Homo sapiens: one gene and its partners. The protein of the gene in region 4 interacts with the protein of the main gene of each other region in a pairwise test. Each region holds a gene or a part of one and is shown on either strand. Other genes may lie near its edges.

Region 1 (8,823 bases), on a different chromosome or scaffold from region 4:
GACGAGGATTATGGGACCACTCTCTACCCTGCCTCATGTGTGTTAACTTCATCTGAATGTAGTTGTCCATCAGGAGTTGAAATCCCAATAAAAATGGTCAGCATTACTTGGGGGAGAAATGGGTAGGCATGGAGAACACAATGATGAGGAGTTGTTGCTTTCCTTTTGGCCACTATAAGCTTTGTTCCAGAGTCAATGTCTACTAAACAACACCATGCACCACACATAGGGGTAGAGCTTTACCTAACTAAATCCTTACAACCTGTTGTCTGAGGGGTTACTGTTATTATTTCTATTTTCAAGCTCAGTGTGGTAAAACTATTTGTTCAGGATACACAGCTAGTAAATGATAGAACCAGGACAGGAATCCAGGTTGTCTCATGCTCAAGTCTGAGCTCTTAACCACTATGATATACTGCTTCCCACTCTGCTCTACTGTTCTGACATTTGAGGCAGACATCTGGTTGCAATTTGATACATTATAAAGCTATTGCCTCATCAAGTATGCCCCACAGAGGGGTAGAGGAGAAAGAGAGACTAAGCAGGGGGTTGCTTAGATTGCAGTTGCATGATGTATGCATATTGCTATGAAATCAATGAATTGAATATATGTTTCTATCCTGGTACTAAATTACCTTGAGAGATAGACTTAAAATATCCTGAGGAAGTTTATTCAGAGGGGTGGCCTTCATCTATAAACAAATATTAAGTGTGACACCAACAGGACTGACTAGTGGTTCCTCCACCCACTCCCTGCCATCCCCCTGCAGACTGCTACATGTGCTGGTTTGCCGACTGTGATCTGGGCTTGACTCATGGAACTAAACGACATTTCTGATGAGACCAAGTCCCCAGATTGCCTCTAGAGGAAGCCACCCAAACCCAGCTGATATTGTGCCAATGCCTCTGTCTTCTTTCCTCTTGAGAACTCAGCTTTGGAAACATGGTACTTTCACCCTTAAGTAAGTGTAGAATGTTGAAAAGGAAGTGGAAATTGAATGTCACTGGATGTGGCTGGCTTGGGTGAGAATGGGGATGATTCAGGTTTTATCCAGTCTGTTAAAAGACAACTCCAATCCAACCTTTCCTGAGGACTTGGAAACAAATGTTCCCTTCTCACTCTCTACCCCAAACCAGGAGTAACAGTTATAAAACCGGAATCTGTTCTACAGAGAGGCCACGCCTATTACAGAAGTATTACACAGGATTCTCCTAGCGTGACATAAATCCAGGGCTTATGGTTCAGGCTTTCACCTCAGGGGTGGTTTCTAGGGCAAAGGAGACCCACGACATTAAAAGGCACCAAGAGTGAAATGATACTGGTTGCAGAGGGGGAGTGGAGTATTATAAAAGTCTCAGGATTACATTAGAATTAGCAAAAAGCTGCAGAAAGGATGAGGGTTGAAAGACCTTGTGGGCCATTCATGTGATTGCAAATATGACCAAGAAAAGGGCAGGACAGTAACAGAGAGACAGACAAAAGTGGAAAGTACCAAGCAAGGCAGATAATAGGTGTGCTTTCCTGAATCAAAACACCACCAAGAATCCGCTTTCCTCTCCCTGCACCCCTAAAATAGATGGAAGACTCTGGACTAAATGCCATACTTCTAGTTTCCTGTGAAATTTCCTCTAGTTCCTTCTACAAGGGCATTTTCTTTGGCCAGTGCAGCACCTGATTAGCCAACAGTAGGTACGTTCCAAAGGTGGAATAGATAGCAGAAACCCAGGAAGATAAAAACCACTGACGTCAAAACTCTATACACAGAACCTCCTTCGGAGCAGAGAAGCATCAGCCTTTAATGGCATTTGGTATTATTGTTCCCCTTCTCCAGCCTGTGTCAGTGGGTGGGTGGGTGTCCCCTCCTTCCCGTCTGCAAACACTGGCTGGTGCTGCTTTAGCTTGAAGCCTGCTACACCCTACTGGCCTGTTGTGATGCTTGGCCACCCATTCCTAAATGGGACACCTATTTCTCTAAAGACCTGTATGATCCTCAATAAGACAGTGAAGAGGAAAACTTCTCCAATCTGGCTTTGATTCTTCAGACATAATTTCCCATACGTCTTCCACCTCACACTCACTGGAAAGTTCAGAATCAGTTGTGCCAGAACAGACGTTCAGTCTGTCCTAAGCACTTTTGCAGACATGTTTTCAATCTGCTCCCTAATGCAGACTGCCAGGATTAATAAATCCTCCAAGTGGTCCCCCTGGTCCACTTCTTTCTTTTCTCCTACTAAACCACTCATCCAACACCAGCAAAAGATGAGTTTTCATACTACCTTGATTTTCCCTGACAGAGAGCACAGCCTTCTTCCCTTCATTCTTAAACTCCTCTAAATTGAATGATTTATGAAAAGAATTGGATTTTTCTCTGTCTTGGAATGCTTCCATTTTCCCCCAACCTCCTCTCCCTCTCACCCCACCTCCTGTTCCCCTGTTTCTTTCATTTCTTCCCTTATTCTTCCTTCCATCAGCACCATGTCTACCACCATCCAAGGATCGGTTCTCATCCCTGAGTTCAAAGCAATCAGATTCTTTTTGGAAAAAAAAAAAAAAAACAAAAAAAAACAAAATAAAACTCTTCCAAGATCATCTTCACGATCTTGGAAGGCTCCTCCCTGACTCCTGAGCTCAGAGTCTTGGTTTTGGATGCTGGAGAGGAGAGAATTCAGCAGCAGCGGCAGCAGCCGCCAGAAAGGCGTGGAGGAGGGTGCTGTTTTGGGTGTATTTGAGGGAACAGCATATGGGCTTTTGTCAAAAATGTTCAAAGCTCGCTAGTTTCCGAGCCGAGGATGGAAATGTGTGCTATCTCTGAACGCTGCTTGAGCTGGCTCAGTTCTCCTTTTCTGGTACAACACCCCCCAAACATCTCAAATCCACCATTCCTTGGCCCACCTGCCCTCTGGACTCTGTGACACCAAGAAAAGTTTTTCAGTCAAGTCGTACCCCATCTGCACCGCCCACCCTCAGGTAGCAAAACCTCTTGAATAGGAGCTACGGGGGTCCAATAAGCGTTGCTTTCCCCCAAAGAATTCCTGTCCCTTCTCACCATCTTCCACCTCACACAAGCAATGAGTTCCCATGTTTCAGCGGGAGCCGCCGAGTAGTGACGGGAAAAGACAGGCGCCCTGGCCCGGCTGCCTGCATCCACCCCTCCGGGCTCTGGGGCACAGGCCAGAAAGGAGGACCTTCAGGATCCCCCCTTCTAAGAAGGAGATCATTACCTTGGCAGCGGCTTGCGGGCCGTGATACTGGCGACAATGATGCTCTCGGGACGGGGGGTGGCCACCGCTTTGAAGGTTCCTCGCCAGAACTTCTCAAAAAGCTGCTTCTCGCCTTGCTGAACGCTCGCCATCGCCAACCCAAAGGGGCCGGGGCGTCCGGGGCGCTGTCCAAAGTGCTGAAACGTGGATTCCAAACGGGGGCGACACCCAGCTCCCGGCTCTGTCCGGGTGAAACCCAGAGAGGGGTGGGGTGGGAGAGATCGGAGTTCAGGGCGGGGGATGGGACGCCCCAGCCCGGGCAGGCAGCAGAGAAAGGAGGCTCGTCCGCTGGGCTTTCTTCGCCCTTCTGGGTCGGCTCCAGGCTGCGCTCTGAGCTGGCTGAGCCTCTGCGCCCCAAGAAGGGAAGGGAGGGCTGGCTTTCTGGGCAGCACCAGGAGAGAAGAGGCGACGGGGTCGGATGTGTGTGCGTGCGCGTGTGAGCTCCGGCGCGCCCGGGTTTTGTCTCTCGCACAATGTGACGTTGGAAGAGGAGGCTGGTCGCGCGAGCTGCACTTTCCTCCCCCCTCTCCGTCTCTCCTCCTCCCCACCAACCCCCTCCTCCTCAGGCTCAGCCTCCTGCCGCCATCTGCATAACAAAAGCCCGCAGGTCTTGGGAGGAGAAAGGGCGGGGCGTGCGCCTGTCACCAGGGCCCCGCGGCGACCGAGTTGCAGCGCTGATCCCTCTGAGAAGCCATCCTGGCACCCCAATCTGCGCCAGGCAGGAGATCCTGCTTCCCAGGCCCCTCTCCTCTCCCATCATCGCTGGCCTTCCTCAGCCCTTTCCTGGGTGCCCCCTTTGGGCCAGGCCACCTTTCTTTCCAGCCCCTTCGCAAGTCTTGTAGCTGATCTTCTGCGTGGGGGGGGGGGGGGGGTTGGGGGGGCTCGTAAAAAACTTAATCTATCCACCCCAGCCGGCCTCCCCCAGACCCTCACTTTTGGGAGACACGGCCTAGGCCGGTACAGAGGGTGCCCTGCGTTCCTCTTTGCGCCGGGGGTTAGCGAGGTCTCCACCACCCAGAAAGTGCCATTTGATAGACAATCCCTCACCAATTCGGCTTCTCGCCATCTGCCGAGCAGGGCCCCCGCCCGCCAAGGGGCGCAGCGTTACATCTGTGCATGCGGAGCTGTCAAGGGTATCTCTTTTGTGTCTCACAGCCGGCCTGCCCAGCGTCCCCGCCGCCAACCCCGTCCAGAGGAAAGAGTTCCCATCTCACCCCACCCCACCCCCATCCACTCCTGGGGAATCCGCCTGCAGCCACTTTTCCTAATGCCGCTAGTCTCGGGAAAGGAGTACGTTTTGGAAAAGAAAGCGCTTAGTGGGAGGGTTGGAGAGGAAAATCTCGAGGATTAGCAGGGGGATAGTTACTTTTCGGTCTCTCCTCCCCATCTCCTTACCGCCTCGCAGTTCAATCGTAATCCCAAGCAAGTGGAGGTTTAGAATCCCAAATCAACCCCAGACACAGAAGATCTGGTTAGAATGACTCTTGTTTTCCCCCAGGGTTTTCATTATAAAAAAAAGAGATCGTGGCGGGACCCCTCAGCCCTTGCCTTCCTGGAAGCCTTTTAATCTTAGCAGAGTTGTTACTCCCCCATCTCCCACCTAACGCCCTCCCCCTCCCCCCAACCCCGCTTCCACTTTCCAGGCTGTAAATTCCTGGAAGGAGGCCTCGCTCAGTCTTAAATGCCTCCAAGCACCTGGTGCTGAGTCCCAGTCACAGCGAGAATAAACTCCTGCTCTTTGCTAAAGCAGATAGCAATGGGGACCCAATGAGGGCGGGGTAGGGCGGGGGGGTCGGGAGAACAATGGGAACTCCAGAAATTCTCTGAAGGGGAACAGGAGGTAACTAGGAGGTGAAGATGAAGAGGCCAACAGAGAGGATAAGATGGGGCAGGAGAAGAAAGAACCTTGGAGTAAATGAGTACCCGCCCCAAAGGGTATCTACGTTTGAAGTGTGTGTGTTCGACACGCCTGCGTCCGCTTATTTGAGTGCCTGAGAGCGCTACTTGCTCTGCAGTGACCCCTTCTGGTCAACAACGAGAGGTGCATTTGCTGGCTTCTTATGTGGGTTGCCGGGGGAGAGGGCCCAGAGGTGGGGGTCAGGCCTGGGAAGGTTGGAGATGGAGCAAAGTGGAGACTAGGCTAACCCCTTCCCTTCCTCTCCCTCTTACCTTGCGCCCCAAATCCCCCATTCCCTGATTGGGCTAGACCCCCGTTTCCCACCCAGAAGTTGGTATCATTGTAAATGCAATCTAGAGCTGGCTTCTTATAGGTAGCAGACTGGCATCTTTAAAACTAACCTTAGTCATGACATTTAGGGTATGAACTGAGTCACTTGCAGGAGAGAGGTAGGTGGGATCCTACCCCCACAAGATCAGTCAACATCTTCCAGTTGTGTGCCTGCTCCTAATCCCTAAAATGTTGATAGAGCTCCCATATGCAAAACATTGCCTTTTTAAAATCCCATCGTAGCCAGATGAGGTGGGAGAGAAAGCTGATCTTATTCTATTTTATTTATTTATCTTATTTCAATAGCTTTAAGGGTGCAAGTGTTTTTTGGTTACATGGATGAATTGTATAGTGATGAAGTCTGGGCTTTTACATACCTGTCACCCGAATAGTACCTTACCCCCAAAAGGCCATTATTAAAAAGTAAAAAAAAAAAATAGATGGTGTAGATGCAGTGAAAAGGGAACAGTTATACACTGTTGGTGTGGATGTAAATTGGTACAACAACTATGGAAAACAGTATGAAGATTTCTCAAAGAACTAAAAGTAGACCTGCTCATTCTTTTATAAAGACACATGCATGTGTATGTTCACTGCAGCACTACTCACAATAGCAAAGACATGGAATCAACCTAAATGCCCATCAGTGATAGACTGGATAAAGAAGTTGTGGTACATATACACCATGGAATACTACGCAGCCATGAAAAGAATATCATGTCCTTTGCAGGGACATGAGTGGAGCTGGAGGTCATTATCCTTAGCAAACTAACATAGGAACAGAAAACCTGATACCACATGTTCTCACTTATAAATGGGAGCTAAATGATGAGAACACATGGGCATATAGATGGGAATAACACACACTGGGGCCTTTTGGAGGGTGGAAGTTGGGAGGAGGGAGAGGATCAGGAGAAATAACTAATGGGTACTAGGCTAAATACCTGGGTGATGAAATAATCTGTTCGACGAACCCCCGTGACACAAGTCTACCTATGTAACAAACCTGCGCTTGTACCCCTGAACTTAAAATAAAAGTTAAAAAACGTAGACCTGCTATTCGATCTTACTCTGTTTTAAACATGAAGAAGTTGAGGATGACCAAGTGACTTCCCCAGGGTGATCCTGTAGGAAGCAAAGGAAATTTGTGAAAAATACAGTTTCTGTTTTTGCTTGGTGGGGTGGAGGATGGAGTGGGATACTACGCATATCAGGATGGACCACCATTTAAAAATAAATCAGATAACAATGAGTCACATACTTAGAAGCACCTGGTGTTGAGGTTCCTAAATTGGGAGTCTGCAGTAATCAGTTCAGGACTTGGAATCCAGAATGCCTGGCTTCAAATTCCAGCTCTGCCATTTCCTAGCTGTGTAATGTTGGAGGAGGGATTTCACTTGCCTATGTCACAGTTTCTTTATCAATACTATGAAGAATTTTTTTTTGAGACAGAGTCTCGCTCTGTTGCCCAGGCTGAAATGCAGTGGTGTGATCTCAGCTCACTGCAACCTCCGCCTCTCAGGTTCAAGCCATTCTCCTTTCTCAGCCTCACTAGTAGCTGGGATTGCAGGCGCCTGCCACGACGGCCCAGCTAATTTTTTTTGTATTTTTAGTAGAGATGGGGTTTCATGAAGATTCTATAAAGATTATAAATAATATGTTTAGATGAACTAGCTGTGAGGATTGAAGGAATTAACACACATACAGGTTCTAGAATGTGTCTGAAACACAGTTTACTCAAAAATATCAATTACTCAAGTGGTTAAAAGCCCAGCCTGTGGATTTAGAGAGAACTAGGATATGAAGCCCAGCTCTGCCACTTTGTAGCTGTATGAGCTTGGGCTAATAACTAACCTCTGCCTTTGTTTCCTCATTTGCAAAAGTGGAGATATCACATCGTGGTTGGGAAGATTAAATGAAATATTACTGGTAAAGGACTTAATAAATTGTCCAGTTTATAGCAAGTGACCATTCAATGGTAGCTCTTCTTGCTCATGATCTTGGAATAATCACCTGTTACTATGTTAAGTCAGGCCATATTCAGTTCAATAATCATTAACTGATGCCCAATCTTGCATCTTGGCCAGGCACAGTCCTGGGCACGGAGGACTCAAAGACAAACCAGACATAGTCCCTTCCCTGAAGCAGTTCACAGCCTAATTCTCCTTCTGGGTCTCCACTGACTAACACTTGTCCCCTTTTCATCTTATCACAGTGACTTCTGCTTTAGGTCTGGCTTCTCCAATATAACGTGAACTCCAGTTCCTCCATCACTTTATTAAAATAGAACCATCTTGTGCCTCATTCCTTCCGGGTATTGCTTTCTGTTTCCCCAGATGCAAGCCAGCCCACCCCATAAACAAGGACCTATTAATATGCTGGTTAATGAATATAAACTTATGGCACAATTATTCCTTGCCCTCTGTGCTATACTGATGGTAGACATCACTGATCCTTCACAATACTCTTTCTCAGACCGACCCTCAGAATCCTTCTTAACACACAGTTTCTAGATAGCCACTACTAATAGTTTGGTCTTGGCATTCCAGATAAAATCAATTTGCCATCCATGTCTAGAGAATGTTTCTTTACCTGATTGGTATTGTTCTTTCATTTGAAAAAAGGGACAGCAGGGAGAAATGATTCTAAACTTTGCAAACCCAGGCACTCTAGAGCAGGAGCTAAGAAGATTCTTATGCAACCTTCTCCTTAGTGATCCAAAGATACAGCACCTCCAGCTCAGAGAAATAGCTACCCCTTCTCCTGAGGCAGTTCAAATCCCACCTCACTAACATTACCATGTTACCTTGGGTAAATCTCTTAATCTTTCTGTGTCCACGATTTCTCTGAGTACAATGGAGCCAACCATTATCTACCAGCATCAGAGAACTTGACAGTCTGTACCCATTTCTAAAAGTCCAGGGAACAGCAAAAGATTCAAATAATTACTGAGATGATGGGAAATATGATAATGAGACCAATTCATCGGTCTTTATGTCTTTAAACAAGATCATGCTAAACCATTCAAATTACAAGATTATTTATTTGGGGAGAAAAATATGATTGCACTACTCAATGTTTATCAATCCTCACTTCTTGACTTCTTCGTTCCCAATTTGACTTCTTCCTTTAATCCTCACTTCTTGAAAGTTCTACCTTGTGTCTAACCTGAATCCCACCTCTGTTGTTTATTGTCCATTCCTCTTCTGGAACATACATGTGCACTACTTCAGATACTCCTGGACTAGTATGGATAAACCAGAAAGCCTCCTTCCAACTGCATAGATCCCAAGATTCTACAAGACAGATGGATTCATTGCCATCTCAGACAATAA
Region 2 (8,399 bases), on a different chromosome or scaffold from region 4:
TTATCAGAAGCAACAACAAATATTGAAATTACACAGAGCAGTCAAGTGTACAAATTTCAAGCTCCTATGAGTAAACAGACTACTGTAGGAGCCAGGTCACTACAAGTGCTCTGTCACATCTTAAGTCCCAATACAAAAATACCTAATAGAATGCTTTCTGGAAGCACTTTAAAAGTGCTTTAGAAGTAAACTGTAATGATCCATGGAATAGTCCAAAATTTTCATTTTCAGACTCTATCTTTGACAGAAATTACTTAGAACAGAATATTCATGACTGAAATATTCACACTTAATGAAAGTATGTGCAAGTAACAGCAATTAGTTAACAGATCATTCTGTCCTAGATGAGTAGGTTAGATAGTAAGGTCCTCCTACAATCACCACCACCACCGCCGCCACTGCCACCACCACTAATGTATTAGAATCACCAGGAACATTGAAATCCTAAGTTTTGTTAAACTGTCCATTGAGAACCTTTACTTTACTTTTTTAAGGACTTTACAGCCTGACTCTCTCATGCTATCTCTTTCCCTTATTTCCCCATTCCAAATCAAATCCCCTTTGCTACACCAAATGCTTGCATATTCTGTATCAAGAAAGATTTCTCAGAATACATATAGCAAGAATAACCAAAATAACTATTTAAAATTCTCCCAAAATAATCAGATCCCTAGAGGAAAGGTTTCTATTATTTCCATAAAGTGTTTCCACTTCTTTTAAATAAAATCTATGTAAGTAGGAAACACAAGTTTTAAGATACAGCTATTAATAATTTTCTATCTATTCATCATCTTAATTTCCTCCCCAATTGATGTGCTATTCGTGCACATGATAAATGATTTGAGACTCCAAAGAGCTCACTGTATTTACAACAGAAAAATGTTACAAAGACACATGCATCAAACAAGAAGCCATACAGTTAAGAGCATGTTACATTCCTATTCCACAAGGGGTTAATGACAATCCAAAATACTGTTTTATATATGAGTAAGATGAAGCAAGCATGAAAAACATTAACAAGCTGTTGGACTGTGAGATTTGAACACAATTTTGGAATGCCTACAAGCTCAGTTTCTTTCGGCTTAATTTATGTTCAAAGTTGGCTGTACATCATTACCAAACACTATTGGTGGCAGGGGTAGGGGTGGGATTGAAAGGATAAAGTGATGACAATAAGAGGTAGTTATCTGCTGGATGCTTAGCAGCACTAGCAATAAAGTGAGATGCCAGTTCTACATTCTAGATTCTACTTTGAATCATTTCTAATTCAATGGAGGGAAAAAGTAGGGTACCCAAATCTTGCCAATTTCTCAAAAATAGAGTTATTTTAATAAAAGTAACCTACATACACAGAGTAGACTAGTGCTGCTACTCCTGTGTTTTATAGGAACTGGCCAAATTAGAACCCAATTTAGGATACTTAGCCATACACGATGCTAAAGAACTGTATTGATTAACCAAGAATTATCACAGTGGCTTTAACACCTAAGACTTACAGAAAGCACATCCTGCTTCTGCCTAACCAAGAGGTATCTGGGGTAATCTTTGCAGATCTAGTAATAAGACAGGTCACTATTCCCCCAGGAAAGGTAGTGGAAACAATAGCAGTTAACAAGAGATTAACAAGATTCAGTGCTTAGATAAACCTTGCCAAGTGCAATGATTATTTTTCAGTTGAGTTGCCCCTTGAATAAAAATAAAGCACAGCCTAGCCTAGTTTATGTGTGTCTGTATATGTATATATTTCCTTCTCCATTGTAACACAAATACACAAAATTTTTACCATGCAATTAATTGGATCAGAGTGTGAGCCCTGAATAAATTCTTTTTTTTTTTTTTGAGACGGAGTCTCGCTCTGTCACCCAGGCTGGAGTGCAGTGGCGCAATCTCTGCTCACTGCAAGCTCTGCCTCCTGGGTTCACGCCATTCTCCTGCTCCAGCCTCCCAAGTAGCTGGGACTACAGGTGCCCGCCACCATGCCCGGCTAATTTTTTTGTATTTTTAGTAGAGACAGGGTTTCACCATGTTTGCCAGGATGGTCTCGATCTCCTGACCTCGTGATCCGCCTGCCTCGGCCTCCCAAAGTGCTGGGATTACAGGCGTGAGCCACCGCGCCCGGCCGAGCCCTGAATAAATTCTAATGTCACTTATAAGAATTTCTTCCTGTCACTTATACCATTTCTTTTCCAGGCATTCTCAAAGAAACATGCTAGTCAAATCCAATTCTCAGAAAGTTGATACGGGGTCTCTATATGACTTGGCATGAAATATTAGGAAACTGGCATCTTATAAGCCTCAAAGACAAGTTAGCAGCATCAAAGACATGCAACTGACTTTGCCATTCCTACTGGAGATCCTAACACAAACAGCACCAGACATGAGGAGAGGAGAAGTTCATGCAGTGCTCACAGAGAATCAGAGAGGGTACCACTACCTGGAGGGTCTGGACTTGCTGGCCTGAGGCGGATGCCACCTGGGCCTCAGTCTGCAACTGCACAGCAGTGACACCACCCTGCTGCTGAGAACAGGAACAGGAAGAGCTTGAAATATGTCAGGAAGGAAATGTGTAGTTCAAGACACAGATCACCTTACCTCTTGGAGGAGAGAGACGGAAGCCTGAAGGACTTTCAAAATGTACAGACTCCCTATATTGAAGCTGTTTTGTTGAAGGTAGTAGGATTAAAGATATTAGCCCTTTGTCTCCAGAGTGGACCTCAAAAATTTGACTCAAAAACTCAAAACAGTTGTCATCATTAACACAAAGATTTGTAATGCAATCTTTCCCTCCAGAAACAGGAATCTGACACTTCTACTTACACAATTGTTTAATGCCCTTTTTATCTCCTCAGATGAGTTCACAAGAAAAAAATGATTAGGTTTTAATAGCCCTGAAACTACCATAAAAAATTCTGGGCTTAAATGCAATCACCAAGAAAGGAGGAGTAATTAATCACTATGAACCGAAATCATCTTCATGACGTCAATGCTCTCATGTCCCAAAACTAAGATTCTTTTTTTTTTAAACTTTATTTATGTACTTATTTTGAGATGGGGTCTTGCTGTTTTGCCCAGGCTGGTCTTGAATTCCTGGGCTTAAGCCAACCTTCCTGTCTCAGCCTCCAGAGTAGCTGGGATTACAGGCATGCAGCACCATGCCCAGCTTCAAAACTAAGATTATTTCTACCCAACTGGACTGCTTTAAGAGCCATGTTTTCAATGATTCAACCTTATTTTTACATCCACTAATGGCAAATTCTGAAAGAATAAAAACCCACCCTCCAGGGCACTGGTGTGAATGGAGGGCCCTTTGTGGAATCCCTTCCTCTAAAAAGGCAGTTGAAGGAAACTGCCAGAGCCACAGCAGCTGTATGGAAGGGAAAGCTATCAGGGGAGTTCGTCTTTGATCATTAGACGGGAAAAACTCATCATCAATACTACCTTTCCCTTCCCTACTACTTTTCTATATTAGCTAAATTCCATTTTGAAAACAAAGTATTTCCAAAATATCAATCTTGGCCTAAGGTCAAATAGAAACATAATACATTTTTTTCTTCTGGGGTGGGGAAAAAAGTGAAATTTTACTATAATAAACCCAAGCATAAAGCATCAGAAAATGTAACCTGTGTATAAATTCAAGAAAGCAATCTATTAATTAGGAATAAACCAGCAGCAGGGAATTCCTTTCTAGTATGTCTTATCCATAAGAATGGCTGTCTAAATATTATCCTAATGTTAAACCAGAGCTTTTCTGAATAAAAAATGTGGCAGACCAAATCAAAAAACAGAAGATTTATTGGAAGCTATGTTGGTTTGTCTGTTGTGGCCAAAGACTTACTAAATCACAAGTTAGCTCAAACAAGAAGAGAAAAAGACCAAATAGAATCCAGAAAAATTTTAAAGTCCAAATTTCCATCTGAAAACCAGACTAGATGTTTTTACTTAAAATGAGATAAAAGAGGCAATTTACTATAACCAGGCACCCATGAAGAGTAGATTCTAAGTGGTCATGGGCTAGACATGGCATTTCAGCACAAGCCATCAGACCCAATATCTCACAAGATCTGGTATCTTTCAAATAATTCCCCAGGGCAATAGACCAACCAATTGAGTGGTGCTGTTATCAGTTTCATTGCTGTAATGTTTAAAGCAGTTTTGCTTCCATACCTGCTGCTGAATCTGTCCTGCCTGGACAACAATCTGCTCTGTCGAACTATTGCTGTTTGCTGTATACTGCTCCATGGTCCCTCCAAGTGAGATTCCTGTCCACTCTGGAGATCCTAGAAGGCTGTGAGGTACACTCCTGTTAGAAAGGTGGGGAAAGAAACTAAAGTGAGATTGTCAATAAAGGCCTTACCAGACAATTAACCTGGATAATTTATCACTGTACTTTATTTGCAAGAAAACAGGATAGGAGAATAGGAAATGCTTATATTCAGTATCATTTTTAACTGGGATTACATGGCACAATCATAACAACATAATGCTATTTTCACGTTTCTAAAATGCTTTCAGTATACTGGCAACCTTACCTTTCAATACTGTCAGAGCAATACTTGCACCTAAGAGATACTCGTTAAGCTACATCACTTTGATACAAGGCATACCTAACACTGATTTTCAGGTTTGCACATATACTTTAGAGAATAAAGCTTCTTTAAGTTGTAACACGTAATTGCTTCCCACCAAACATGTTACTCAGGTCCACTACATATGGTAGGCAAAATTTACCCTTCTCATAGACTTTAAGAGTTGAAGATCCACTTTTAAAAATAAGGATACAATTAGATAAACTGAATGATATCTGAGAACCTTTAATAAAGACTTCATTAAAAAATTAAAATGATATAAGTTAGCAATCGGCAATTCATCTTGGAAATATGGGAGGGAGGACAGATATATAAACAAAAATGTAGATAGGTCTTTCTCTCTGATTTTTCACTAGGCCCTCATAAATTCCAACATCTGAATAATAAAATGACGTGACCTAACTGAGCTGCTCATTATCGTGGCAAAGTACAGTACCACTCTCCATAAATCCACACATGCTGGTGGAATTAATCATTTGCAAGGTGTCTCAATACAGTGTGAAAGAAGAAACCAAAATATGTGCAACTATATGTCCAAGTACTTAGAAAGAAGTGTATTGATATCTAAAATTTACTTTGAAATGCATCAAAAAATGGATGAATGGGTGGAGAAATATCTGGTAAGGCAATTATAGTAAGATGTTAATAGACCCTAACTGGCAGGTATACAGGTGTTTATTTTCAAATTCCTTTGATTTCACTGCACACTTGAAAATTCTTATTTCTAGAATAAGAATTTTGAGAAATTCTTATTTCCCAAATGAATGTTGGAATGTTAGGAAAAATATAACAAAATTTAATCAAAATAAAAATTAATCAACCCCATTACTCATAACCAAAATGGATACAACATAAGAATCTATGAGCCATAAATAACAGGCTATGTCATCACAGCAAGAGGACTTGTGGCCATATGGTTCTCCAAAGCACTGCCCTTGATCTAATGGAATGCTCGCTAGGTAAATTTCTAGCTATAATTTGGATTTACATATAGATTGGCCAACAGGGAGCAAATATAATCAGCAACATGACAAACCGGTTTTCTGATTTTTACACCAGTCTCTTTGGAATTGGTTGACTAAGTCTGCTCCTCAGAGATTCTGGGTATAGAATAGAAAATCAGGTTTTCAGCCAGACTGTGAGTCTGTTAGGGGCACTAACAGGCTTCCCTAAATTCTATCTTGTCTCTAATACACAATACATTTATGGCTATAAACTAATAAAATTAAGGTTATGATGTAAACGAATATATATGATTCCATTTATATAAAATCTCCAAAAGACATCAGTAATCTAGAGACAGAAAATGGATCAGTGGTTCCTTGGGAGTGGAGAATACAGGGAGACAGGAAAGAGGGAGGTTGACTGGCATGGAGCCTTAGGAACATTGTAGGGTGATGAAAATGTTTTATATCTTCATTGTGGTAGCAGTTGCACAGGTGTACAAATTTGTCAAAACTCATCAAAATACACATTTAAAATTATTATACTTTGTTTCTAAAGTATCTCTCAATAAATTGATTTTAAAAAATAAGGATCATGAAAGGAATGTCTTTTAGGTTTCAACGCCTCCCCAACTCCAAATTTCCTTCTTATATGAGATTTTTTCCTTGACTAATATCCAGAAGTTTACATCTTTACAAGACTAAATATAACTTGAAGCACATAATGACTAATATATGTAACGTACAGATTTTCTTCTTAACTAGTTTATTCTGGTAATACAAATGAACCAATTTAGCAATATTTAAATTTATACTTTGAAGAGTATCAAGATTTGAAGAGCAGCTTCAAATCTAGCAGCAATTCTCTCTCACATTAATGACAGAGTGATTTAGCCTGTATCATGATATTGATACTGTTAATGGTTAATGCTATAAGCAACTGGCTTCAGTAAAGTCATATGTTCCTACTACTGTGAGCTTCAGTTAGCAAGACTGCAATACAATTCGATAGTCTTTCCCAAAGTGCCTCTTTGCCCAAGATTATGACAAACTAAGCCAGATTTAGTCTGTCTAGCTCTTGCTCTTAACACAAAGTTTTGAATGGTTTTTCCTCAAAGAGAGAGAAACAAATAATAAGTGTTTATTCTGGCTAGCATGAAAATTCTCTTCCTAGTGCATTCTCTTCTCAGTGCAATTCTCTTTGCCCCACTATTCCAAGGTGCAAAAGCTGAGACTTAGCCAACCACTTACTAGGAACCCATTCTATGTGGACCTACACAAACTCCAAAGCTAAAACCTCTTCAGAAACTCAACTAGTGTAAGCATATGAAAAGCCATAGGATTATCACAGTTGATAATCACTACCAGGCAAAGCCTAGAACAGTAGCTTTTTAACTTTTTTGACCACAACCCTTAGTAAGAAACACATTTCATTATCACAACTCAGTGCACACATGTATAAAGCATGTAACTGAAATGAAAGTTTCATGAAACAGCATTTACCTTTATACAACACAAGATGCACTTTGGTATTTTCTATTCTTTTTTTTCTTTTAAGAGAGGGGGTCTCCCTATGCTACCCAGGCTGGTCTCAAACTCCTGAGCTCAAAGGATTCTCCCACTTCGGCTTCCCAAAGTGCTGGGATTACAGTCGTGAGCCATCATCATGCCTGGCAGATATTTTCTATTCTATTATTTAAAAATTCCCAGCATTGGCTCACTCAATTTCTTTCACAACTCAACAAGTGGGTCCTGATAGACGCTTGATGAAAGACTAGACTACAACAAAGGGCTGTCCAGCTTCCCCATCATCCTACAGATTTCTGGATTGGAGCTTTCTAATGCACTTCTCTCCACTAATTATGTACCATGTGCCAGACACTGTTCTGAAGGTTTTAAAAATAAAAAGAAATCTCTGACGAAGATTCAAACTTCAAAGAGTCTTTAAGTTTAGTAATGGACTAAAAACCTATACTGGAATCCTAAGAGATAAAGTGATATGGGAATTTGGAGGACAGAGATTTGTTCCAGCTGGGGATAAATCAACAAGGCTTAAAAAAAAAAAGGTACTACTTGAACTTTTTTTTTCTTTGCTATCAGAGGCCTGCAGGATGAACTGGTCTTAAGTGTGAGAAAGATTTAGCTATGTGATGATGTGGAGGAAGGTGAAGTACTACAAATCAAGAGAGCATAAAAACAAGAACAGAAATATTTCAGCATGTGAACAGTGGACTAAACAGGAAAAAAAGCTTGGGGCCACACTACTTTCTCTCAAAATGTCAGACAAAGAAATTCTTCTGCAGACTGGTGGAAGCTTGTAAGGTATTTAGCAAAAAAGTTACCAGATTATAATGCCTTTTAGAAAGATGCCAAGCAAAAGTATTTAGTGATTTTGAAGTGACCAGAACATACCTATTTTTAAATACTAAGGTTAAAACATCTATTTCAGGTCAGGACGCAGTGGCTCATGCCTGTAATCCCAACGTTTTGGGAGAACAAGAAGGGAGGATGGCTTGAGCCCAGGAGTTCCAGGTTAGTGAGCTACGATTGCGCCACTGTACTCCAGCCTGGATGACAGAGGAAAGCCCTGTATCCAAAAACAAACAAAAAAACGTTCCAAAGGCAAATATACATGTTTTTTAGACTACTTAAGCTCTATCATCTCATCTGCTAATGCGGATAACGTGACAATCAAATGAATTAAGAAAATCACTTAAGCAACAATGAAAAACTCACCCTAAAAAGTGAAAATAAAACCTGTCCCCGAAGTTTTAGTAATGAAAGAGCACTGGAATACGAGTTTTCTGAAACCTATTAGTTGTATAACATTAAATGTGAATTTAGAAATGGGCACCAGATACTTAAGACC
Region 3 (8,399 bases), about 34 Mb from region 4:
CAATGGCCCAATCTTGGCTCACTGCAACCTCCGCCTCCCAGGTTCAAGGGATTCTCCTGCCTCAGCCTCCTGAGTAGCTGGGATTACAGGCACCCGCCACCAAGCCTAGCTATTTTTTTTGTATTTTTTAGTAGAGACGGGGTTTCACCATGTTGGCCGGGCTGGTCTACAACTCCTGACTTCAGGTGATTCACCGGCCTCGGCCTCCCACACAGCTGGGATTACAGGTGTGAGCCACCGTGCCCGACCTGAATCAAGATATTATTTAAAAGAACTGTTTGATGTTATTTATTTATTCATGTCTTCAATAGGTATTTACATGTCTGTCTTCGGAGATGGTGTTAGAGGTTGTTTTTTTTTTTTTTTTGAGACCGAGTCTTGCTCTGTTGCCCAGGCTGGAGGGCAGTGGCGCGATCTCGGCTCACTGCAAGCTCCGCCTCCCGAATTCACGCCATTCTCCTGCCTCAGCCTCCTGAGTAGCTGGGACTACAGGCGCCCGCCACCACGCCCGGCTAATATTTTGTATTTTTAGTAGAGGTGGGGTTTCACCGTGTTAGCCAGGATGGTGTCGATCTCCTGACCTCGTGATTCGCCCGCCTCGGCCTCCTAAAGTGCTGGGATTACAGGCGTGAGCCACCAAGCCCGGCCGGTGATAGAGTTTTGAACAAGACAAAGCTCCTTGCAAAGCTAACCTTGGGAGGTTTGGGGAAAACCACAAAGAGGGTGACAAGATAATTTCAGATAGGGCTAAGGGATAGGAAGAAAATGAAGATGGGACATGTTAAGTAATAATAATAGATGACATTTGAACACTGTGCCAGTCACTCTGTCGATTGTTTTACATATACCTTGTGACAACCCTAAGAGGTAGGCACCGTTATTACGGACATTTTACAGGTGAAACAGGGACACAGGAAAAGTAAGTAACATGCCCAGCTGTTGAATCAAGGCAGCCCGGGACCAGAGTCCACTCTCTGAGAAATGGCATTTGGGCAGGATCGAGAATGAGGAGGAGATCCAGTGTGGCAGAGGCCCTGGGGAGGAATGGGCTGGAAGTATTCGAGAAACCCAAAAGTAAGAGTGGCCTGAGTGGCCCAGAGAGGTTGATGGGAGGCAGGAGTCAGAGCGTGTCTACCCTCGTAGGCCATTGGAGGCTTACATGTGGAAGGGACAGGTTCTGATTCCTGTTTAAAAAGAGGGCTGCTGTCCGGGCGCGGTGGCTCACGCCTGTAATCCCAGCACTTTGGGAGGCCGAGGCGGGCGGATCACGAGGTCAGGAGATCAAGACCATCCTGGCTAACACCCCGTCTCTACTAAAAATACAAAAACAAAATTAGCCCGGCATGGTGGCGGGCGCCTGTAGTCTCAGCTACTCGGGAGGCTGAGGCGAGAGAATGGCGTGAACCTGGAAGGCGGAGCTTGCAGTGAGCCGGGATTGTGCCACTGCACTCCAGCTTGGGCGACAGAGCGAGACTCCATCTCAAAAAAAAAAAAAAAAAAAAAAAAAAATGCCGGGCGCGGTGGCTCACGCCTGTAATCCCAGCACTTTGGGAGGCCGAGGCGGGCGGATCACGAGGTCAGGAGATCGAGACCATCCTGGCTAACACGGTGAAACCCCGTCCCTACTAAAAATATAAAAAATTAGCTGGGCGTGTGGGCGCCTGTAGTCCCAGCTACTCGGGAGGCTGAGGCAGGAGAATGGCGTGAACCCGGGAGGCGGAGCTTGCAGTGAGCCGAGATTGCGCCACTGCACTCCAGCCTGGGCGACAGAGCCAGACTCCGTCTCAAAAAAAAAAAAAGGTTGCTATGTGGAGAATAGATTGTGGGGATGGGGGTAGTAGTGGAAACAGAAGTGGCCTGCAGTAGTGCATGGGAAACCGGGTGACGTTGAGTGTGTGAGGAGTGGCACCTGAGAAGTGGTAAAAGAATCTCCAGGAGACTAGTATTTTCAGGGTACCCCGAATTTTACAGACAGCTCTGACAGGTTAAGCCCACAATAGCTTCGTTTGGATCAGAATTCAGGTCTCTTGAAGCACGGTTTTTGCTTTTTGATTAATTTTCCAGAGGAGGAAAAGGAGTAATAGGTATAATTTTAAACTATTAATATGATGACTGGCAAACTTGAATTATGTGACTGTGGGTCTGGCTTGGTATAATATGATTTACTTTTGTCATTATCTACTTTTGTATATACAAGCAGGCTTTTAATTAATTTTAGTTCATTTCAAATCTGTGAGCTTTTATGAATTGAGCCAGTTCCTAGAGGCTACTTTTATGGTACACTGGAAATTGTAGTTGTCAGGAATAAGATTAAGATTATTTAGTGGGTCAAAATTTTAATCCTGTTAGATTGTCCTGTGAGTTTAGTTTGCTTATTATTAATTGTGCTGCTTTGTGAGTAACAGGCAGAACGGAAGGACTGTAGTGCTGTTTAGTCACAAATCTTAGGAATTAGCTACATCACATAGCTTGGGATAAATTTTTGCCTTATAGTATGTTTATATGGAGGTACAATTTTTAAAATATCTCTTTCATTTATTTTTTTCATAACTTTTATTGGGATATAGTTCACATACCATAAAATTTACCTTTTAAAGTAGGCCATTTACAGATTTTTAGTCTATTCATTAAATTGTGCAGCCGTTATCTAATTCTATAACATTTTCACTTCCCCAGAAAGAAACTCCATATTTATTTCCCAGTTATTCTCCATTCCCCTTCCCCCTGCGTTGGCAACAACTAATTTACATTCTAAGTCTCTATGAATCTGCTTATTCTGAACATTTCATGTAAATGGAATATACAGTATGTGGCTTTGTCTGGTTTCCTTAGAACAATGTTTTCAAGGTTCATCCATGTTATGGCACGTATTAGTACTTAATTCCTTTATATTGTTGAATAGTTGTGTCAATATGCCACATTTTATCCATTTATCCATTGTTCCTTAAAATTTTTCTATTTCTGGCCAGGCGTGGTGGCTCATGCCTGTAATCCCAGCACTTTGGGAGGATGAGGTGGGCGGATCACGAGGTCAATAGTTCGAGACCAGCCTGGCCAATAGGGTGAAACCCCGTCTCTACTAAAAATACAAAAATTGCCTGGCATGGTAGTGTGCTCCTGCAGTTCCAGCTACTCGGGAGGCTGAGGCAGAAGAATTGCTTGAACCTGGGAGACGGAGGTTGTGGTGAGCCGAGATCATGCCGCTGCACTCCAGCCTGGGTGACAGAGCGACACTCCGTCTCAATTAAAAAAAAAAAAAAATTCTGTTTTGTTTTTTGTTCTTGTAAAATTTTTATTAAAACATTTAATTTTGAGGCCGGGTGCGGTGGCTCATGCCTATAATCCCAGCACTTTGGGAGGCTGAGGTGGGCAGATCACGAGGTCAGGAGATCGAGACCATCCTGGCTACGGTGAAACCCCGTCTCTACTAAAAAAAAAAATACAAAAAATTAGCCGGGCATGGTGGCGGGCACCTATAGTCCCAGCTAGTTGGGAGGCTGAGGCGGGAGAATGGCGTGAACCCAGGAGGCGGAGCTTGCAGTGAACCGAGATTGTGCCACTGCACTCCAGCCTGGGCGATAGAGCGAGACTCTGTCTCCAAAAAAAAAAAAAAAAAAAAAAAAAAAATTTTTACTTTTGAAATAATTTCAGACTCACAAGACCTTGCAAAAGTGGTACAGAGTTCTTTGTGTACTCTTTATTCAACTTCCCTGACGTTGATATCTTAACCATAGAACATTGTTGAAACCAATAAATTGACATTGAGACAATGTTATTAATTCAAGAAAGATTTTACTTGGATTTTATCAGTTTTACATGCACTCTCTGTGTAGTTCTAACAAATTGTGTCACTTGTGTAGATTAGAATAATCACCACAGTCAGGATGCCAAACTGTTTCATTACCACAAAGAACAGTCACTCTCTCTTCAAATCTAAGCTTGGGAAACACTGATCTGTTCTCTATCACTTAATGTTGCCACTTTGAGAATGTTATATAAATGGAATTATACAGTATGTCACCTTTTGTGATTCGCCTTTTTTCATGCAGCGTAATGCCCTTGAGATTCATCCATGTTGTTGCCTGTGTGAGCAGAGCATTCCTTTTTTTTTTTTTTTTTTTTTTTTTTGAGATGGAGTTTTGCTCTTGTTGCCCAGGCTGGAGTGCAGTGGCACGATCTTGGCTCACCGTAACCTCCGCTTCCTGGGTTTAAGCGATTCTCCTGACTTAGCCTCCTGAGTAGCTGGGATTACAGGCATGTGCCACCATGCCAGGCTAATTTTGTATTTTAAGTAGAGACGGGGTTTCTCCACTTTGGTCAGGCTGGTCTCGAGCTCCTGACCTCAGGTGATCCACCCGCCTTGGCATCCCAAAGTGCTGGGATTATAGGCATGAGCCACCGTGCCTGGCTGTGCTTTCCTTTTTATTGGTAACAAGTATTCCATTGTGTGGATTAACAGTTTATTCACAGGCTAAAGGATATCTGGGTATACTTTGCTTCTACTTTTTTTTTTGAGATGGCATCTTGCTCTGTCGCCCAGGCTGGAGTGCACTGGCGCAATCATGGCTCACTGCACCTGCCACCTCCCAGGTTCAAGCGATTCTCCTGGCTCAGCCTCCCAAGTAGCTGGGACTACAGGCATGTGCCACCACGCCTGGCTAATTTTTGTATTTTTAGTAGAGATGGGGTTTCACCATCTTGGTCAGGCTGGTTACGAACTCCTGGCCTCAAATGATCTGCCTGCCTTAGCCTCCCAAAGTGTTGGGATTACAGGCGTGAGCCACCGTGCCCAGCTTGGTGAGACAGTTTTGGAATGTAATGATACAAGTTTATATCCTTATTCAGTAAGCCTCAACCCTTGAATTTATACTTCCCTGTAGTATAAATTCAAGCTCATAAGCCCATGACTTTGGAATACTTCTCATGGATTACCTAATTTTCATTTCTTATTTTTTTACACATTTGTTTATTCAACAAACATTTTTGCTTACTACCTCTACAGTAGAATACAGTAAATGGACACGAAGCAAATACCTAGTGCTGCAGATAGCTAGTGCCAGGGTGTGTGTTGGATGCTAGAAGAGTAAGATAATTAAAGTAGAAGAGATTGCTTTGTGAAAAGACCATTGCAGGACAGTGTGATGAGAACTGTAAGATTTAGGTACAGTAGTGCTTAGTTTTTTTGTTTTTGTTTTGTTTTGTTTTGTTTTTTCGAGATGGAGTCTTGCTCTGTTGCCCAGGCTGGACTGCAGTGGCCTGGTCTTGGCTCACTGAGACAGGGTTTCGCCATATTGGCCAGGCTGGTCTCAAGCTCCTGACGTCATGATCTACCTGCCTTGGCCTCACAAAGCGTTGGGATTACAGGCTTGAGCCACTGCGCCTGGCCAGATTTCATTTTAATATTGTCATTTTAATGAAATAACTTTTTTTTTTTTTCTTGAGGCAGTCTTGCTCTGTCACCCAGACAGGAATGCAGTGGCATGATCTTGGCTCAGTGTAACCTCTGCCTCCTGGGTTCAGGCGCTCCTCATGCCTCAGCCTCCCAAGTAGCTGGGATTACAGGCATGCGCCACCATGCCCAGCTTATTTTCTTTGTATTTTTAGTAGAGCCTGGTCAGGAACTCCTGGCCTAAGCCTCAAGTGATCTGCCTGCCTCAGCCTTCCAAAATGCTGGGATTACAGTCATGAGCTACTGCCCCTGGCCCAGCTTTTTTTTTTTTTTTTTTTTTTTTTAAAGTAATAAAAGTAATATGGTCATGGTAAAAAATTCAGTACAGAATTCAGTATAATACAGAAGATTTAAGAAGCAAGTGTCAGCTGTGGCTCCACTAATTATTTTTAATTTAAAAATTTTTTAGCAGCTGGGCGTGGTAGCTTACGCCTGTAATCCCAGCGCTTTGGGAGGCCGAGGTGGGCAGATCACAAGGTCAGGAGATCAAGACCATCCTGACCAACATGGCGAAACCCCGTCTCTTCTAAAAATACAAAAATTAGCCAGGCGTGGTGGCATGTGCCTATAATCCCAGCTATGCAGGAGGGTGAGGCGGGAGAATTGCTTGAACCCGGGAGGCAGAGCTTGCAGTGAGCTGAGATGGCGCCACTGCACTCCAGCCTGGGCGACAGAGCGAGACTCCATCTCAAAAAAAAAAAAAAAAAAAATTTTAGCATGTTAATTTAGGGTATCTAATTGTTTTGGTGTGTTATTCTTTTACTTGTGCATGGTTTTGTTCATTTTTCAAAAATTGAGTCCTAGCATACATGTATATGCATGTATGTAAAGTGCATTGATCTTTTAAAGATCAGTGAGGATCACTAGAGGTCAGGAGTTTGAGACCAGCCTGGCCAACATGATGAAACCCCGTCTCTACTAAAAATACAGAAATTAGCTGGGAGTGGTGGCACATGCCTGTAGTCCCAGCTATTCCAGAGTCCGAGGTGGGAGAATTGCTTGAACACGGGAGATAGAGGTTGCTTTGAGCTGAGATTGCACCACTTAGTGCCAGCCTGGGCGACGCAGTGAAACTCCCTCTTAAGGATAAAACATCATTTTTAATTTTAATTTTCTTTTTTAGAGATAGGATCTTGCTTTGTTGCCTAGGCCGCTTTCACCCTCTTGGGTTTGGGTGATACCCCACCTAAGCCTCCCAAGTAGCTGGGACTGCAGGTGCCTACCACCATGCCTGGCAGTGCACTCATATTTTTTTGAGACGGAGTCTTGCTCTTTCGCTAGGCTGGTGTGCAGTGGCGCTATCTCAGCTCACTGCAACCTCCGCTTCCCCGATTCAAGCCATTCTCCTGCCTCAGCCTCCTGAGTAGCTGGGAGTACAGGCTCGTGCCACCACTCCCCAGCTAATTTTTGTATTTTTAGTAGAGACGAGGTTTCACCATGTTGGCCGGGCTGGTCTCGATCTCCTGACCTTGTGATCTGCCCGCCTCGGCTTCCCAAAGTGCTGGGATTACAGGCGTGAGCCACCACGCCTGGCCCAGTGCATTCGTCTTAATTGTACAGTTTGATGATTTTTTTTACATTTATTTATACCCCTGTAACGACCATGTAGATCAGTATATAAAACCCCTTCAATGCTCCATAAGTTTTCTCATGCCTCTCCCGAGTCTATACTCTACCACCTAGGAGCAACAACTTTTTTGATATCTATCATTATTGATTAGTTTTGTCTGTTCTTGAATTTCATATAAATGAAATCATATAGAATATACAGTCATCCCTCAGTACGCTTGGAGGATTGGTTCTGGGACACCCTCAAATAACAAAGTCTGAGGATACTCAAGTCCCTTGTAACCTTCACACATCCTCCTGTATATTTTAAATTATCTCTGGATTACTAATAATATATATACAATGTAAATACCATGTCAATGGTTGTTACATGGTGTTTTTTTAATTTGTAGTTTTTATTTTGTTATTATTTATTTACTTTTGATTGTTTTTGATTCATGATTGGTTGAACCTATGGATGCAGAGTCCACAGTTTCAGAGGGCTGACTTTATATATATATATATATTTTTTTTTAGAGACTGGGTCTTGCTTTGTTGGCTGACAGTGGCACAATCATAGCTCACTGCCACCTCAAATTCCTGGCCTCAAATGATCCTCCTGCCTCAGGCTGCTGAGTAGCTGGGACTACATGTGAGCACCACCATGCCCAGCTGATTTTAAAATTTTTTGTAGAGATGGGATCTCCCTATGTTGCCCAGGCTCAAAGATGTAGTTTTGATTGAACTACTTTACTCTCCCACAAGTGTAAAGACACTTAAGTTTGCTTCACATTTTTGCCCACACTTGGCAGTGTCATTGTAATAAATTTTACCTATTATGGGTGTGTATTGATATTTCATTATGGTTTTCAATTGCATTTTCCTGAGTAATGATGTTAAACATCATTTTTTTTTTTTTTTTGAGACGGAGTCTTTCTCTGTTGCCAGACTGGATTGCAGTGGCATGATCTCGGCTCACTGCAACCTCCACCACCTGAGTACAAGCAATTCTCCTGCCTCAGCCTCCTGAGTAGCTGGGACTACAGGTGTGTGCCACCGTGCCCAGCTAATTTTTGTATTTTTGGTAGAGATGGGGTTTCACCATGTTGGCCAGGATGGTCTTGATCTCTTGACTTCGTGATCTGCCCACCTCGGCCTCCCAAAGTGCTGGGATTACAGGCGTGAGCCACCAGGCCCAGCCAACATCTTTTCATATGTTTCTTGGTCATTTGAGTTTCCTGTTTTGTGAAGCGCCTTTTTAAGTCTTTTGCCCCCTACCCTTTAAAAAAAATATTGTGTCGTAAGTTTTTCTTACTGATTTATAAAAATTTGTAGATTTTCAGATGACTTCTTTTTCGGATGTATGTATAAGTTATGTATCTTTCTAATCATTATGGATATC
Region 4 (6,460 bases):
ACTAAAAAAAAATACAAAAAATTAGCCGGGCGCGGTGGCGGGCGCCTGTAGTCCCAGCTACTCGGGAGGCTGAGGCAGGAGAATGGCGTGAACCCGGGAAGCGGAGCTTGCAGTGAGCCGAGATTGCGCCACTGCAGTCCGCAGTCCGGCCTGGGCGACAGAGCGAGACTCCGTCTCAAAAAAAAAAAAAACAAAAAAAAAAACAAAAAAAAAACAAAAAACAAAAAAAAAAAAAAAAAAAACAAGCCTGGCAGGGGTAGGGCAGGGAGGGGTTGCTCATGCCTTATACTCCCAGCACTTTGGGAGGCCGAGGCGGGCCTATCACCTGAGGCCAGCAGTTCAAGACCAGCCTGGGCAACACGGCGAAACCCCGTCTCTACTAAAAATACAAAAATTAGCCGGACGTGGTGGTGCACGTCTATAATCCCAGCTACTCGGGAGGCTGAGGCAGAAGAATTGCTTGAACCCAGGAGGCGGAAGTTGCAGTGAGCTGAGATTGCACCATTGCACTCCAGCCTGGGCAACAAGAGTGAAACTCCGTCTCAAAAAAATAAAAAACATACCTATTTAAGGAGGCTTTTTTCCTTAGTTTTAGTTGGTGTTGATAAGCTCAGCAAAGGAGCTTTAGGGTAATACTTGATGACAGCAAAATGAAGGAAACCTTACTGAAGGTAAAAACTTAGCAAAACACTCCCCAGAGGGACAAAAGTTTTTTGCAAATACAATATACTTACTTATGCTTTCTACCAGTCACCAACACAGAAAGACCAAAAATTGTGTATGAGAAAGTGATATTAAGATTTGAGATTTTATTCTAATTCAGTGGCATCAATCATGTAAAGAGCCATGCGGTTGAAGTGGTCCGCTGTGGCACGCAGCCCCACAGTGATGGTGCGCTTTATGCCCTGTTCATGTTGGGGCAGCCTATACCATCTAGAAACCACAGCTGCAGTAACCATTGATATATAGACCTGTGTTACTTCTACAAGTGTTCCATTCCAACTGTACATATGCTTTAGAGTTCAAAATCTAAGTCCAGATATACTATTATAATGGGCCAGGTCCCAGACATTCTTCCTCACACCAACCAGCTAGTCCTTTTGATCTTACTCCGAACCCCAATGTACGAAATCTGAAGTGCTTGTAAGGATTTAGAACAGCACAGACTACCCGGAACAAAGGAGATACAAAACATTTCTTAGCAACCAAAAATAAAAGGGAAATGGGCCACTGAGGCAGATGGGTCTCTCAGATTAAATGCCATATAAATTGCATGTGTGGAACCAAATACAGCAGAAAACCCTCAGTTAATGAGGCATAGCTTGGTAAATTGGGAACTTGATGAGGGTTTTTAACGTAATCTGGTATCACTTAGAATGGCCTTAGTTTCCCATTCTCTCAGCACCTTCACAGAGGCCCACATGCCTCTGACATCAAATCTGTCAAACTTGGGGACAAAGGACATTAACAGTTCTTGAAAGGTGACCTTAGTTAATGATACCCACAGATACTAATTTCATTACTTAAGGAATCTGTGTTCCTCAGAATTTCCAGAATCACAAGTGATACCTGCCAATTACAGTTTAAGTTACTAACGGATATACAACTCTTCAAGGCAGAAACTTAAGTCTCATTATGTTGGTTACATATACTGTTTTTATTTGGGTTTGTTGAATGAGAATAAAAACACCCCAGTTTCTTCTGCAGGTCGAGCCCTTCTCTATAACGGTCATTACAAACAACCCTGAAGTGGCTGGAATATAGTCAGCAAGGGGCCCACATGAACAGCTCATCTGGAATCTTTGCAAGTACGTATTTATGTCCTTTGGTGCCTTGCACAGTAAGGCACTGTTAATGACGTAACAGAATAGAGGAAATGCCCACAGCAAATAGTTCTAGTGACAATTTACTAGACAAGTTACAGTTTAATAATGGTGGTGGTGATTGTTTCTTTCATTTTATTATTATTATTTTTTTACAATAAGGGTGTAGCCTTTATACTCCACACACACAAAATAAAACAAGTGCTTATTACGAAAAGAGTCCCTGCCCCCACCCCCTAGAACATCCTGAACATAGCAATTCAACAGAACAGAAAAATCAAGACGTTTGATTTCAAAATTTCAATAAAAAAGCAAAAGTATGTAATGCAACAGCTGTTCAACTTCCAACTCTAAATAGGCACCATTAAACAAAAAACCCCAGTATTTTAAATTTCTCCAGCACACATTCCAGGATCAATGCTCTGAACTGTAATCAGCTAGTAATTCATAACGGGAATACAGCCTTAGAATGGAAGCTATATTGCTTCCCTGCCCCCTTTCTCTTACAATTGGAGAGTGTAGGTATTAAGGGATACAAAGTCAGAGGAAGAATAATTAAAAAGAAAAATGCCCAAAGCTGCAGCTGTTTGGACTAGGAAGACAGCATTTTACAAACGTTCAAAAAATCCCAAGGCAAGTAACACAATTTGTTCACTAGCACTCTTACTTGAAAGAATAAAGAGATCAGCATCTTATTATATAAAACTGTACTTTCAGAACTGTATTACAGGTTCACCAGAAACTATGGATGTAGTTTTAGGCATCATCAAGGAAAACAGGTTCAGTTCAGATCAAGTTAGATACTGTACATCTAGCCTAGCTGGATCTGGTGTCTGGATCTGCTCACTGTCACCCTGAACAGCTGTGAACTAAACAATAGTACGTAACTCCGTAGGAAGCTTAAGGACTGAAGAAATGTACACAGCTAGTTAGATCTCCCCTGCTTCGCGCTCTTCAGAGCTCCTCCTGTCTTCTGATCTGCCATTAGCACTCTCATAGGACCGCTTCTTATCTTTCCGATCTCTGTCACGAGGTGATCTGTCTCTTGAACTCCTGTCTCTGTCACATGATGCTAAGTCTTGGTCTCTGAATCTTTCTTTTGAGGATCTGAAAAATATTAATTTGAGGAGCAAAATATGTTGGGAAACCCAAAAACCCAAATTAAAGAATAGGATAAATATTAAGCTCTTGATAGCTGAAGATATATAGACGAATATACCCATGACAGAGGAGTCAGTTTTCTGACAAATTACAGAGCACTACCATAGTTGATAAGGGCATTAAAACAAGAAGATGGGTGAAAAACAAATAGCAGAGGGTCAGAAGGCTAAAATAATTTCTTACAGGCTACTCTCATCTCAGAGACAACACAGAGTTTCTCCAATTCATAAAAGGTATTTTAATATAAAAAATAATACATAGATAACAGCTTTAAAAAGTGAAAGAAATGTATTATCTAAATTTTAAATGGCTTAGAATAGGGGCCAGATGGTGACTATCTGGGGTACTGCAGGTCCATGCAATCTTTGTGGCAGTTCTTTTCTTTTTAGAATGTAAAAACCATCCATAGCTTGCTGGTTGTACAGGCTACCGGCCAGATTTGGCCTATCGGCAACAGTTTGCCAACACCTGACTTAGATAAGAGAACTACTCAATTATTAATATGAATTTAAATAACCACTTCTAAAAATCTACTCATACTGAGTTAGCTTATTCAACCAACAAGGGGAAATAAAAAAAGACAAAGATGCTCACACTAATAAATCTTGATTAGCCATAACTGTTTACTACCTTCTCCATTCCCATACCCAACTTCATTATAAGAAAGGTAAATAATAAATCAATCGGAAAACCAAACATATTATGGAATCAGAATAAACATGGAATCTTCCATACTTCCAACATCTAAAATTCAACAAATTACATTTATTTGGTTCTTTACAGGTGACACAGCACTTTTACATAATTATCTCACTCAACCCATATTCAAAATTAGGATCTGAGGCACTACCAAGAACCTGAATAAGTAATACTTTCAGGAAAATAAAAAATATGACTGTTCAGTTTTAGAAATATAGTTAAGGAGGGTTAAACAAAAAATGGTTCTAAAATAATGTCCACTTTGAACATTCTACTTAATGTTTTAATAAACTTAAAATGATATAAAAAGACTGGGCACGGTGACTCACGCCTGTAATCCCAGCACTTTGGGAGGCCAAGGCAGGCAGATCACTTGAGGTCAGGAGTTCAAGACCAGCCTAGCCAACATAGTGAAACCCCCGTCTCTACTTAAAATACAAAAAATTAGCTGAGAGTGGTGGCGTGTGCCTGTAGTCCCAGCTACTCGGGAGGCTGAGGCAGGAGAATCACTTGAACCTGGGAGGCGGAGGCTGCAGTGAGCCCAGATCGCATTACTGCACTCCAGCCTGGGTGACAGAGCAAGACTCCATCTCAACAACAACAAAAAATCACAGTGCCAAGTCTAGTGATTCCACGTCTACACTAGTCCTATCCATAGCCTTTGTTGGAATAAAATATGAAAAGAGATGGTAAAAATGATACCTAAAAAGACACTAGATGCCAAACAGTCCCAGTGATCAGTAATAACTAAAAAACTATGAGTATCAACTACTATGTCCCACACATAGTGGTTTCCATATACTATTTTACTCAAACTACCAATAATCTTAACAAAGCAGGTATTCTTACTTTCTCCACTTAGTAGATGGGGAAAGACAGGTGAGATAGTTATAAATTACTTAGCCAAGGTGGGACGTGGTGGCTCATGCCTGTAATCCCAGCATTTTGGGAGGCCAAGGCAGGTGGATCACCTGAGGTCGGGAGTTTGAGACCAGCCCGGCCAACATGGCGTAACCCTGTCCCTACTAAAAATACAAAAATAGCCAGGTGTGGTGGCCTGGGCCTGTAATCCCAGCTACTTGGGAGGCCGAGGCAAAAGAATCGCTTGAACCCGCAAGGCAGAGGTTGCAACGAGCCGAGATCGCGCCACTGCCCTCCAGCCTGGGTGACAGAACGAGACTCTCGTCTCAAAAAAAAAAATAAATTACTTAGCCTAAACCAATGAACCCAAGTAATCTGACTTTGGAGTCTGCACTAAACATGTTTGAACAGAGCAAAAAGATAGATAGATGCAAATGGTCCTCATTTACGCAGGGCACTATTGCCAGGAAGAGGTCACAAAGAATCTACTTGTATCAGAGACAAGTATTTCACAGTAGGGAAAGGAGAACAGCAAAACATAAAAGGCTTTCAATAAGAACTTTTACCTTGAAAAATTAAACCCAAATATGTAGCAATAACTTGATGTTGTATGAAATACCAAGTAGGTTTTAACAGCAATTATCTGGTAATTTTTAGTATAAAACAAAGAATGATGCTTTAAAAGAGAATAATTTGAATTCAAAGATGAGAAAGTGCTCGAGAAAAGCAAAACTTTTAATAGTTTTACAAAAATAATCCTCTTTATGAACATGCTGACATCTTAGATATGATCATGTATCATGTATGGTGGAAAAATTCCTATACAACTTCATCAACGCAGGAAGCATCAGGGACTAAAATAACACAATCTCAGATTAGGGGACTTCACGCCCATCCTTCCCATACCCATCACCAATAAAGACATTTAGGAGTTCAGCAACAACAATGACAGTTGGGCAGATTTGACACAGGAAAATGTCTAAACCTTCCATCACCTAGCAGGATAATTCTGAAAATTCATTGTGCAGATAAGACAGGTAACTTTTAAAAAATGCTTATTTCTGAACACTGCACTGAGGGTAGACCCCCAAAATCAGTTTCAAGAGTGTGAGATAAGAGGCCTACAAATCACTCTGTCCTTTACAAACTCCCTCCTCATTCTCTGCATTTGCCTAGGATATTCACTCTATATGGAATATCTTTTTCCTAGCTGATTCTACCTGTTCAAATTTTACCGACTACCTGAAGCCATTTTTGATTACTCTGTTATTTGCCTCATCTAAACTCTCGGATCATTTATTCTATGATATGCAGTTTAGCACTTTATAACATGTGGTAGTCTTATGCCAGTCTAATTATTGTCAAAGATGTCAATCCTTTGTTCTAACTCACATAGGAGACTTTTTGTTTTTTTTTTTGTTTGTTTTTTTTTGTTTTGAGAGCTGGAGTCTCGCTCTGTCACCCAGGCTGGAGTGCAGTGGTGCGATCTTGGCTCACTGCAACCTCCACCTTTGTGTTCAAGCAATTCTCCTTCCTCAGCCTCCTGAGTAGCTGGGATTACAGGCATGTGCCACCATGCCCGGCTAATGTTTGTATTTTAGTAGAGATGGGGTTGGTTGGCCAGGCTGGTCTTGAACTCCTGATCTCAAGTGATACGCCCATCTCGGTCTCCCAAAGTGCTGGGATTATAAGCGTGAGCCATGGCACCCAGCCTCACATAGGAAACTTCTTAGAGCAACTTAAAGTTGTTCAACTATGTTATACGTCTTTCTTATGTTTTACTAAGTCTAGTACAGTAAAACATATACAATTAATTATTATTAAAATCACCTTAAGAAATACTAAAAACAAGGCCAGAATATAAGAAATAAAATATTGAGAGCCTATTAACAAACTCAGCTTGTGAGTGATTTCAG

The links.
Region 1: the proteins of LUC7L2 (region 4) and SRRM4 interact in binary tests that used the Homo sapiens proteins (3 or more experiments, as listed by UniProt).
Region 2: the proteins of LUC7L2 (region 4) and NFYA interact in binary tests that used the Homo sapiens proteins (3 or more experiments, as listed by UniProt).
Region 3: the proteins of LUC7L2 (region 4) and SRPK2 interact in binary tests that used the Homo sapiens proteins (3 or more experiments, as listed by UniProt).

What each region holds. Positions count from the first base shown.
Region 1 is NC_000012.12:118,976,413-118,985,235, reverse strand, and holds the start of SRRM4 (serine/arginine repetitive matrix protein 4), read right to left. Parts: upstream 3,696-8,823; 5' UTR 3,354-3,695; coding exon 3,223-3,353; intron 1-3,222. UniProt on the Homo sapiens protein: Splicing factor specifically required for neural cell differentiation.
Region 2 is NC_000006.12:41,074,930-41,083,328, reverse strand, and holds part of NFYA (nuclear transcription factor Y subunit alpha), read right to left. Parts: intron 8,063-8,399; exon of another isoform or gene 7,980-8,062; intron 7,853-7,979; exon of another isoform or gene 7,631-7,852; intron 4,301-7,630; 5' UTR 4,240-4,300; coding exon 4,165-4,239; intron 2,519-4,164; coding exon 2,432-2,518; intron 1-2,431. UniProt on the Homo sapiens protein: Component of the sequence-specific heterotrimeric transcription factor (NF-Y) which specifically recognizes a 5'-CCAAT-3' box motif found in the promoters of its target genes.
Region 3 is NC_000007.14:105,378,282-105,386,680, reverse strand, and holds part of SRPK2 (SRSF protein kinase 2), read left to right. Parts: intron 1-8,399. UniProt on the Homo sapiens protein: Serine/arginine-rich protein-specific kinase which specifically phosphorylates its substrates at serine residues located in regions rich in arginine/serine dipeptides, known as RS domains and is involved in the phosphorylation of SR splicing factors and the regulation of splicing.
Region 4 is NC_000007.14:139,418,633-139,425,092, reverse strand, and holds the end of LUC7L2 (putative RNA-binding protein Luc7-like 2), read right to left. Parts: intron 2,931-6,460; coding exon 2,753-2,930; 3' UTR 1,639-2,752; downstream 1-1,638. Other genes in the region: FMC1-LUC7L2 readthrough protein, read right to left, coding at 2,753-2,930. UniProt on the Homo sapiens protein: May bind to RNA via its Arg/Ser-rich domain.